2 separate regions of the Homo sapiens genome follow, and region 2 is linked to region 1. The links come from fine-mapping of genetic effects on gene expression. Tissue or cell type: whole blood. Region 1 holds a variant in brackets; the other region holds the start of a gene. All regions are shown on one strand. Distances are from middle to middle.

The links. PIP is the estimated chance that this variant, and not a neighbour inherited with it, causes the effect.
Region 2: MAN1C1 starts here. The variant in region 1 is fine-mapped to the expression of MAN1C1 in whole blood (INTERVAL, PIP above 0.99).

What each region holds. Positions count from the first base shown.
Region 1 is chr1:25,673,377-25,678,569 of GRCh38, reverse strand. All of the region lies in intron 1 of MAN1C1 (mannosidase alpha class 1C member 1), which reads right to left. Among named protein-coding and RNA genes, the nearest start is that of MAN1C1, 59 kb to the right of the region's middle. RefSeq lists an enhancer at 2,127-2,176 and a silencer at 2,257-2,326. The variant C/T (reference allele first, on the strand shown) is at 2,476.
Region 2 is chr1:25,613,695-25,618,813 of GRCh38, reverse strand. It overlaps MAN1C1 (mannosidase alpha class 1C member 1), which reads right to left and starts at 2,023. Exons shown (of 12, transcript NM_020379.4): 1 at 477-2,023. The coding sequence starts at 1,016. RefSeq lists silencers at 1,798-2,087, 2,108-2,397 and an enhancer at 2,588-2,757.

The DNA of each region.
Region 1 (5,193 bases):
CTTTTAAAGTTATTAATATGTAACGCCCTTTTAAGAGATTACAGCCAGACAGCATGTTTTGCCCACCACTGTGCAAAACTTGGTGAACAGGAAACTGTTTAACGATTTTGAGACAATACGGTAAAGTAGTTCACTTGGGGAGATAAAACTAACAAAATGAACAATCATCACTTATATTTGTGCAGCTCTTTGCATATTTTATCTCATTTGATTTGGCCAGTTCAGTGGGCTGGACAAGACAGATATTTGTTCCATTTGGAAATAATTATGCAAGGGCTAAAGTAGGAGATGTAAAGTAGTAAATAGGTATTAAAAATTGTGTTTACAAATGTTTCATGATAGGCAAAAATGCTCAGTATATATTATTAGGTGGAAAGGCAGAACACAAAATTACATAGTATGAAATTCACTGGCCTATGTATGAGTGTTTACAAAAAAGACTGAAAGAAAATATACCAAATTCTTAACAGCGGTTATGTCTGATAGAAGTTTAGTGATTTCTATCTTTTTCTTCTTATTGACCTATATTTTCTGAATTTTCTACAGTGAATATCTAGAAAGGTTTTGTGATGTGAAAAATACAGGTTGTTAAAATGAAAAACAAAAAGAAGACATCGTATGGTGCTACCCTTAAGTCAAAAGCAAGTGCCTGGGTGGTCAGCCATGGGGTAGGTCGGACCAAGTTAGGTTTTGATTAAAAAAAAAAAAAAAAAAAAAAAAAAAGGAGGTCTTTACAGCAGGGAGTCAGAGAGAAGGTCACCCAGCAAGAGAAACAACATCAAACAGAAGCACAGATCCAGAACTCCAGAGTCAAAGAGAATTTTAAGACCAGAAACATCATCTATTCTCAAAGCCACATTTTATAAGAATATAGACTCAGAAAGGGAAGGGACTTGCCTCGGCCAGGACACAGACACTAATAGCACAGAGATAACCATGTCTCTAAGAAACATGGGCCAGGGCAGTGCAGTAGCTGACTGGGGAAAGGGCCAGAGCTACAGCAAGAGATACTCAGGACAGGTGCAAGAACATGACAGTCGGAACCAATCAACATGAGAACTATGCACCAAAAGAAACTGTACCCCTGTCCCCACTAGGTTCTAGAAACGCGCAACAGGCAGTCATTGTGTGTGTGTACGTGTGTGTGTGTGTGTGTGTCCCTGCTAGAGATAGAGGGTGGCTCTAGATGGTCTCTGGAAGCCCCTCCCTTCCTGTAGCCTGTGATTTATAGATTCAAAGAGCACCTAACAATAGACCACAAAGCCTTCCCTTCACTCAAGTCTTGCAAAGGTGGAAAACAAAGCTCCAATGATAGAGAGATACAGGCAGAGCCATCGGAGCTGAATCCCAAGAAATCTCTTCAGTTCTTCCTCAAACAAAAGATGTTCTTGTCTACCTGAACAAATCAAAATGACACGGAATTTTTTAGTGCAAAATATTTACTAGTGTGAGGCAGAACATTATTATTTGGTTTAAGATTTTCTTTCTACCTGTCTCAGAGCTCAAGAGTTCTCTCCTGCAGAAAAGAGACTAGAATCGATCACCCAGGCACAGATGCCCACTCAGCTGAGGACCCCAGAACAATGAGATCAAGAGAGAAAGGATGCATTAGAGGAGGGGAGGACACGTGGGTGCCAGCAGACCACTCCCAGAGTGGAAAACTCCAAAGTTTGTGTTGGACAGTTCTCTGGGGGTACAACTTGGAAGGAAGGGGGTGAGCATTGAATATTGAGACATTCTCCCCCACTTTAAAAAATCACACACATACACACAAGGCTGGCTCTGGCAGTGACCCAGAACCACAGTTGCTACATTCAAAGCTGCCAAGGAAGGAAATGGATTTTCCCAGTCATTAAAGACAAGTGCTCACACCATGACGTGCAGCCTTACTGGCGTCTCCCAGCAGTGACACCTGGCCCCATTTGCAGGGGCCAAGTGGGAAGGGATTTGGTCTCTAACGATCCTGGGATCTAATGACTATGTAGACAGAGAGCTTAGAACATTGGGTTGATTTTTTTCTCCTCTTCCACTTTCAGCACAGTCCAAGGGAAGAGCTGACAGCTTGGCACCTAAAAACTATCCACGTTGGATTTTCTGATCCAGTTCCATTTATTGGGGCAACACAACATGACCTGGTTGGTGACCCCAGTGAGGCTCCTGCAAATACACAGCCCAGGTCTATCGCTCAGAAGCTGGGCACGGGTGGGGTTTGGTTGCCCGGGGAGGTGAAGCGGGGGAGTAGAAGGGGAGATGCTGCCTCCAACCCTCTCAGTTTCGGGTTTACTCAAGCTATTGAAAGGCCAATGTGGGAAATGAGCATATGATACAACTCCCACCCACCTGAGGTCCAGACAGCTCACCCACATCCTGCCCATGGGGTTTCAGGTTTGAGCAGTCTCAGGAATCGCATCCTGTCTGCAGCTGTTTCTAAGGCATCAGGGTCGAGAGTGTGGGCCATACAGGCAGAGAAACTCT[C/T]GCTGCTCAAAGTGCTCCAGGGACCAGGAGTAGGGCCACCCAGGGGGCACGTCAGAAACAGAGTACCTCAGTTCCACTCTCCCACCTGCTGAATCTGTAGCAGCAGTTTAACAAGAGCCCCAGGTGATTCAAACGCACATTGAAGCTTGAGAGGCTGCTCTAGGGCTCTGCCACCTTACTGGCTGTGTGGCCTTGAGTGAGTGACTTAACCCCTGTAAGTCTCAGTTTCCTCATCTGTAAAAGGACAGAAATACTTAATCCTTAGAATAACCCTAAGAGTAAATAACAGATGTAAAGTGTTGAGCACAATGGCTCGTATATAATATGTGCTCAATAAAAAGCAGCCATGGCATGGATGTGGTGAAAAGTGAACACTTTTACACTGCTGGTGGGAATATAAGTTAGTACAACCACTATGGAAAACAGTATGGAGATTCCTTAAAGAACTAAAAGTAGAACTATCATTTGATCCAGCAATCCCACACTGGGTAACCACCTCCCCCCCCCCCCGCAAAATAAGTCATTATATGAAAAAGACACTTGCATACACATTTATAGCAGCACAATTTGCAATTGCAAAGATACGAAACCAACCCAAGTGCCCATCGACCAATGAGTGGATAAAGAAAATGTGGCATATATACACCATGGAATACTACTCAGCCATAGAAAGGAATGAAATAATGTCCTTTGCAGCAACTTAGAAGGAGCTGAAGGCTCTTATTCTAAGTGAAGTAACTCAGGATTGGAAAACTAAATATTGTATATTCTCACTTATAAGTGGAAGCTAAGCTATGAGGACACAAAGGCATAAGAATGATATAATGGACTTTGGGGACTCAGAGTTGGGGGAAAGACTGCAGGGGTTGAGGGATAAAAGTCTACATATTGGGTACAGTATAAACTGCTCAGGTGACAGGTGCACGAAAATCTCAGAAATCACCACTAAAGAACTTATCTATGTAACCAAAAACTACCTGTACCCCAAAAACTACTGAAATAAAATGAATCAATCAATCAATAAAAAGCAGCCACAGGATACTGCTATCCTATTAACGTATCCACTAAAAGAGAAGTATCTCTCCATCCACTTCTCTTTGTACCACCACCATGAGCACCACCCTAATCCAAACCACTCCCATCTCTCCATGGAACTCCTGCGACTGCCTCCTGACTGGCCTAGATGGGTCCTCCCTGGCTTCCTACACTGCTCTCCACATTGCAGCCAGGGTGGTTATTTGAAGTGCAAATTTATTCATATCGCTCTGCTTCATCCCAAACACACACTTAAATAAACTCCTTCTTGAGGCCCATCAGGCCCAGGAAGTCACCCACTCACGCCTTCAGTCAGCTTATCCTCCCCATCTCTGCCACAGCCACACTAGCTTTCTCTCTCTTTTCCTCAAGGAACCATGCCTCCCCCTGCCACAGGGCCTTTGCACACAATAGTCCCGCTCCTTGGACAACTCCTCCCTCCTCTTTTTGCCTGGTGAATTCCACTCATCTTTCAGTGCCCAGGCTTGGTTGCCACTTCCAAGAGAGGTCTTCCCTTCAGGTTGAATCACCCTATTATGGAGGATTATTAAAGTCAAAATTTTACATTAGTTGTGTGATTAATTAGTATCTATTTCCCTGCATGATTATGCAGGCTCCACGAGGCTCTGTTGGCTCCATTGCTCATTACTGCTCCCTAGCACCTAGGAGAGTACCCAGCACATAGAGACTTTCCATAAAAATATGTTGATTAAATGACTAAGGATGGTGACAACACGAGGCAACCTCTAGGGCTGCTCATGTCAAAGGATTAAGGAGGATGCCTGGGACAGAAGCACTCACTGCCCAGTGGCCTTGACTCAACAAGGATTTATCAAAGGCCCAATAAAGGGACAGCTCCAATTGTGAGGCCACAACAGCAAGAGCAGGTGAGACCCTTCCCAGCGAGGCTTTGGTCTTGGTGCAGCGTGCAGACAGACAAGAGCAGCTGCACAGAGAAGGCCACCAAACCTGGGAGCCACTGCATTGGGACAGGTCCCCAACCGCTCTGTTCTATCACAGATTGGGTGTTAGGTGGGGGCAGGAAGACAGCGTGTGGGGGACAAAGATGAGTGACAGTGGGAAAGATCTTAGGTCACCCACAAGTGAAATTCCAATGCGAAATGGTTCAACAAAACCTGCCCATGTGCAAGTGTCTCTACCATTTCCAAAATGCTTTGCCTTTTTCATTTGAGCCTTACCGTCACCTGTGAGTTAGGCAGGGTAGGGGTAATCACCCCCATTTTACAGCAAAAGAAACCGCACTTCCACATACAGACATTTATGGGACATATTGTGTCATGCACACTGCTAAGTGCTTTTGTATGCATGTGCACATGCCGTTTTCACCACATCTCTGTGACGTGCTCCTGGGGAGGAGGTAAGGCATAGCAGTTCAGAGCCTGGCTTTGGATCCTGGCTTTACCCAGCTGTGTGTCTTTGGACAAGATACTTAACCTCTCTGTGCCTCAATCTGTTCATCTGTGTAAAAATAATGATACTGTTATATTTACCTAGTGTTTTCCATGAGTCATCAGTGCTTTACATATAAACTCATTTAATCTTCACACTAATTTTATAGGACTGGTATAACATTACTCTCATTTTCAGGTAAGGAAACTGAGGTACTTGCCCAAGTATCATAGCAAGTAAGCAACAGAGCCAGGATATGAATGCAGGTGGTCT
Region 2 (5,119 bases), 60 kb after region 1:
ATCCTGGGTTTTTAGGTAAGCAGGTCCTATAGGGGTTTTGGACTTAAGGTCACACAGTGAAAAAGAATGGGACCAGTGGCTCTGTGTCCACAAATGCAAAAAGAGGGTGCACTAAGGAACCTGAACTCCACTCTCATTAGCAACTCCACAAAGGGAAGGAGTGGAGCTCACTGGGCCTGGGGGTTGGATACGACATACCAGAGTCTGGGAGTGAGGGGGCAGTTGGTCTAGGGGTTCAGCTGCCATCTGTCACGGTGGGGACGATTAACTGACCCGAGTGGTGGGAAACTGTGTAGGGAGGAAAGAAGGTGGGACATTTGGGAGGAAAGGGGAAGGTGCAAAGTGCAGTCTGCAGGGCCAGAAGTAGACCTGGGACCAGGAGTGACTGAGGCAAGGGAAAGGGGTGGGAGCGCCAGAGGGTCTTCTCTCCTTAGAGGGGGCAGTTGGTGGGAGGAGTTTGGGGGCTGAGTCCATACCTCCTTGATTTTCTCCCGCTGGGCTCGCACTTGGCTCTGGGGCTCCTGACTCTCATCGGCCCTCGTTCCCAGGACCGGGTGGCGGAGACGGCTCCGGAATGCGTTGAAGTCAAAGCGGAAAGGGACGCCCTCGTCCCCGGGCCTGGAGGCCGGGATGCTATTGCCCCGGGCCGCCGTGGCCTCCTCGCGGGGTCCAGTGGGGCGGGTGCGCCGCAGCCCCCCTTTCCTGCGGCGGGGACTGGCCCAGCTGCTGGGGTCATCCTCGCCCGGGGCCGGCGCGGCGGGGGCCGGGTTGGGAGGCGGCTCCTGCTCGCGGGCCGGGGCATGGCCGGCGATTTCAGCCACCACTTCCAGACCAGGCTGCTGGGTCCGGGGGGCCAGGAAGAGGCGCTTGAGGCGAGAGGAGTGGGGCAGCAGGAAGAGGGCCCCGAAGCACAGGGTGACCAGGCCCGAGAGGAAGAGGAGGAAGAGGAACTTCTGCGGCAGCCGCAGCCCCCACGGGGAGGCCGGGACGAAGCCGGGCACTTTCCTCATGAGCATCGTGGCCCGGCCGGTGGCTCCAGAAGCCCTCGGAGTCCAGGCACGTGTCTGCGGGGGCGCGGTGAGGGGAGGGCGTCCGGAGCGCCGCCCGGGATGGGGGTCCCTGGGCAGGGTTGCCAACCCTGAGAGTTTCGCCGCTTCGGGGGACTGTCCCCGAAGTTCAGGGAGTTTGGAGCGAGTCCTCCCGCGAGGAGGCGGGGGCGCAGCGGCCTCGGCGGGGCCCGGGCGAGCGGAGCGGCACGGCTTGGGGCCCGGGCCCGCAGCGACCGGCCGCGCGCCGCAGCCTCCCCTCCGGCCGAGCCCTCCCCGCCGCGCCGGGGCCCGCGCCTTCCCGCGCTGCGGCCGCCGGGACCGTCACATGCCGTCCGCGGCGTCCCGGCTGTCCGCGCCGAGGGGCGCCCGCAGGCCCGCACCAAGCCGCCCTCCGCCCCCTAGGCTCCCGCCCGCGCTGGTAGGCGCCCAAAGTTTCAGCTTCAGAAGCAGTTTCCGGAGGGGACCGAGGCGATGGGGGGCTGGCGTGTCAGCGCCGCCCCGAGCGCGCGCACACCCGGCCCGGTCGCGACAGCGCCCGGGCTCGACTATCGGGACACGTCCACAACTTTCTCCGCCGCGGAGAGGGCGCCGGGAGCTGGGAGCCGGAGTGGCCAGGGAGCAGGAGCAGGCACTTCCGAGCCTGCGGGGGCAGGGGGCTTCCCCCGGGCCCCAGACAGCGCAGGGATGCCTGGGTCCGGAGCCGCGGCTGGGCGGCTGCAGATGCGCCCGGGAGCGCGGGCTCCCGCCCCTCGAACTCGGCAGGGCGCGGGGCTCCCACTGGGATCACCTGTTCCCGGCCCCGCCGGCTCCGCGGAGCGCGCAGCCCTGGCCGCGCCTCCCCCGCTGCAGCTGTCTTCCTCGCAGCGGCCGCTCCAGACCGGCCGCTGCCGCCGAGCCTGCGCCCCACACGCGCGCACAGCCACCCGGCCGCCTCCACCGCCGTCCCCGCCGCCGCCGCCGCTCGGGCTTTCACTGCGACAGCGCCCGCCGCCCCGCCTCCTGCCGCCCGCCGGCCACGCCCGCCGGCCACGCCCACGCGCGCGCCCCGCGCCCCCTCCCGCCGCCGCCGCGCCGCAGCCGGCTGAGGGCCGCGCGTCCGGGGGCGGGGCAGAGGCCGAGCGCGGGCGGGAGCGCAGCCCGCTCCAAGCCCCGCCCTCCCCGAAGGGCAGGCGTCGCGCGCACCCCCCATCCAGCGGGCGCCAATGGTCCAGCGGCGCGGGGCAGGCGAGGGCGGGGGCGGAGAGCGCAACGAGGGCATTGGCTGCATCCGAGGGATCCCCGTTGGGCCACAGTCGTCCATTGGTTACTGCCCAGCCTTCGCTGGACCCCAAGCGACAGAGACCACCCCCCAGCCCGCCCGCGAGGCTCGGGTTGGTGGCCCCCGGAAGCGGGCCGGAGACGGTGTTGCTCTGGAGGGGTGTGCCCGTCGCTGGGTGACCTCTCTCGCCCCCGAGTGCCAGCCCGGGGTTGTCAGGGAGCTGGCAGCCCGCGCCCTGGCGGCTGCCCCGGGCTTCTCAGCGCTAACGCCGGGCTGCAGGGGTGCTGCTGGTGGCTGGAGCCAAGCCAGAGAGCTGTGACCGCGGCCGGGTCGGCGGAGGTGATGTTTCCACTGGCCCCCTCGCAGACCACTGGCGTGCCTTCCTTTTCCCACAACCCTAAACGGGGCCAGGGCTCCTGGGTGGAGCACGGAGGGAGGCTGACCGCAGCCTTGAGAAGCAGCGAAAGGAAGAGAGCCCCGGGCGTGTCTACAGAAGACCACACACATAATGTGACGGACGTCTACCTTGATGCCTACGTGTGTTTATATGCACATGTGTGCGTCTGGGCATAGATCTATATGCACACAGAGACTGGCATGTGGGTGTGTACATGCACTCAAACATACACTTAATTTGGGTATGGACACCCAAGTGATTATACCACAGTATGCATAGACATATATGTAAATTAGTACAAACATGGACATGTGCACCCGCATACCCACAGACACTCAGGCAACAGATAACCTCCAAAAACAGCCAGGCATCAACTCCCAGACACGCGTGTCCTCAACCCCAAGGCCCTCACATCTTCCTCCTTGGACTTAGTCTCTGCATCTTCCCTTCCTGTTAAACCTAACCCAGGGTGAAGCAACATTGTGCTGTGTGGGTCTTTCATGCAAAACACTTTATAGAGACAAATAACAGCAGAGGGAGAGACAAATTAAGAGGTTTGTAATAGGCAAGAGGGAAAATATCTACTTTCAGCTGCAATTTAAAATGAAATGCAGTGTTGACGAGACAGAAAATACTGCAGGGAAGCCTTTCCCGACAGAAGAAGCGGGCCAGGCAGGCTCTCGCCTCGTAAATCTTGCTTCTTCCCTGAGGCCTGCTGGGGATGGGCGGCTGGGACTCAGTCATCCTTCTACCTCTGGCCAGACCACTGACAGCAGACCCACCCTCGATGTTTAAATATCCCTGGCATGCAACTTTCTCTCAACTGAAAATGAAAGTGGGTAACAGGTGCAAACATTTTGGTCACTGGAGATGACTAATCCTTCCCAATCCCACAAATATATGCAGCTTAAATATAAAATTCTAATTCAGATATTTCAATCTCTTGTGAGTTTCGTTGGCAGGTTGATGTGGAGCCAGCTGTGCAAATCAGAGATAAGCATGTGACCCATTTGGGTGCAGGAGCCCAGAGACCTGGCCTGGCCTCACCCATGTCTCCAACACCCAAGCATCGCCTCACTGGGTCCCACTGCAGGAAAGGGCAACCTTGTCTTTGGAGAACCAGGCAGGGACCCAGCATTCATTAGAGTCATCATCTGTGTTGTTCCTCATTGAGAGTGTAGGGGAATCACTGTTCAGTCCCCTGTGAAGGTAGGATCCAGAAAGGGAGAAGAGCAGAGCTGAATCTCAGAAGGAAATGTCTGTTTGAACTAGATGCTCACTGTGATGTGACACTCTGACCAAACTCTGGTGTGCTCTGTGAGCCAGGGTGGAAAGTGGGGCTGCAGCAGGACTGACGTGCCTTTCACACTCAGGCTATGAAAACCAGAGGCCCCAGCAGGTAACTCCATTGCAAAGTGATGTGATGTTGGTGATCACACCAAGTTGTTGATACCATCACTTGCTAGGGAGATACCAGTCTCTCTAAAAAGCTCTCTGAAACCCTGGGTGTCCCCTTGCCCCACACCTCTAGCCCCCAGAGACCTCATACATCCCGTGGCTCTTCTCCCACTGACTTTTAAAGACTATTGGTGTGTTGTCACAAAGCAGATGCTCAGTTCTTCACCACGGCTTCCTCACTTCTCTAACTCTCTAACTTCTCTAACTGCCCCGGGTCTTAACCACAATGCCTTCCACATGGGCACTGTGTTTGCTCAGTAAATGAATGAAGAAATGAGTGAGTAGATGCCCATTTCACAGATGTAGAAACTGAAGCTCGGGGAATGGAAGAACAGTGAACTAACATTTTCTATGTGCCAAATACATATTGTCTTATTTACTTTTCAGAATAATCTTTGTGGTAGATAATTATTAATAGCCCCATTTTACAGATAAGAATACCAAGGCTTAGAGAGACTTGGGATGAGTTATAAGTATCTATATTAATCAGAGTTCTCCAGAACAGAACCAATAGGCTATATATAGATATATAAAAAGAGATTTATTATGAGGGATTGACTTCTGTGATTATGGAAGGCTGAGAAGTTCCACAATCTGCCATCTGCAATCTGGAGGTCTAAAAAGCTGGTGGTGTAGTTCCAGTCCAAGCCAGGAGGCCTGAGAACCACAAGAGCCGATAGTGTAAATCCCAGTCTGAGTCTGAAGACCCGAGAACCAGGAGAGCTGATGTCCAAGGGCAGGAGAAGATGGATGTTCCAGCTCAAGCACAGAGCATGGATTTGCCATTCCTCTTCCTTTTAGTTCTGTTTCAGCCATCAGTGGATTGGATGCTGCCCACCCATACTGGTAAGGGCAGATCTTCTTTACTCAATTTACTGATTCAATTACTAATCTCTTCCAGAAATTCCCTTACAGACACACCCAGAAGTAATGTTTTACCAGCTATGTAAGCATCCC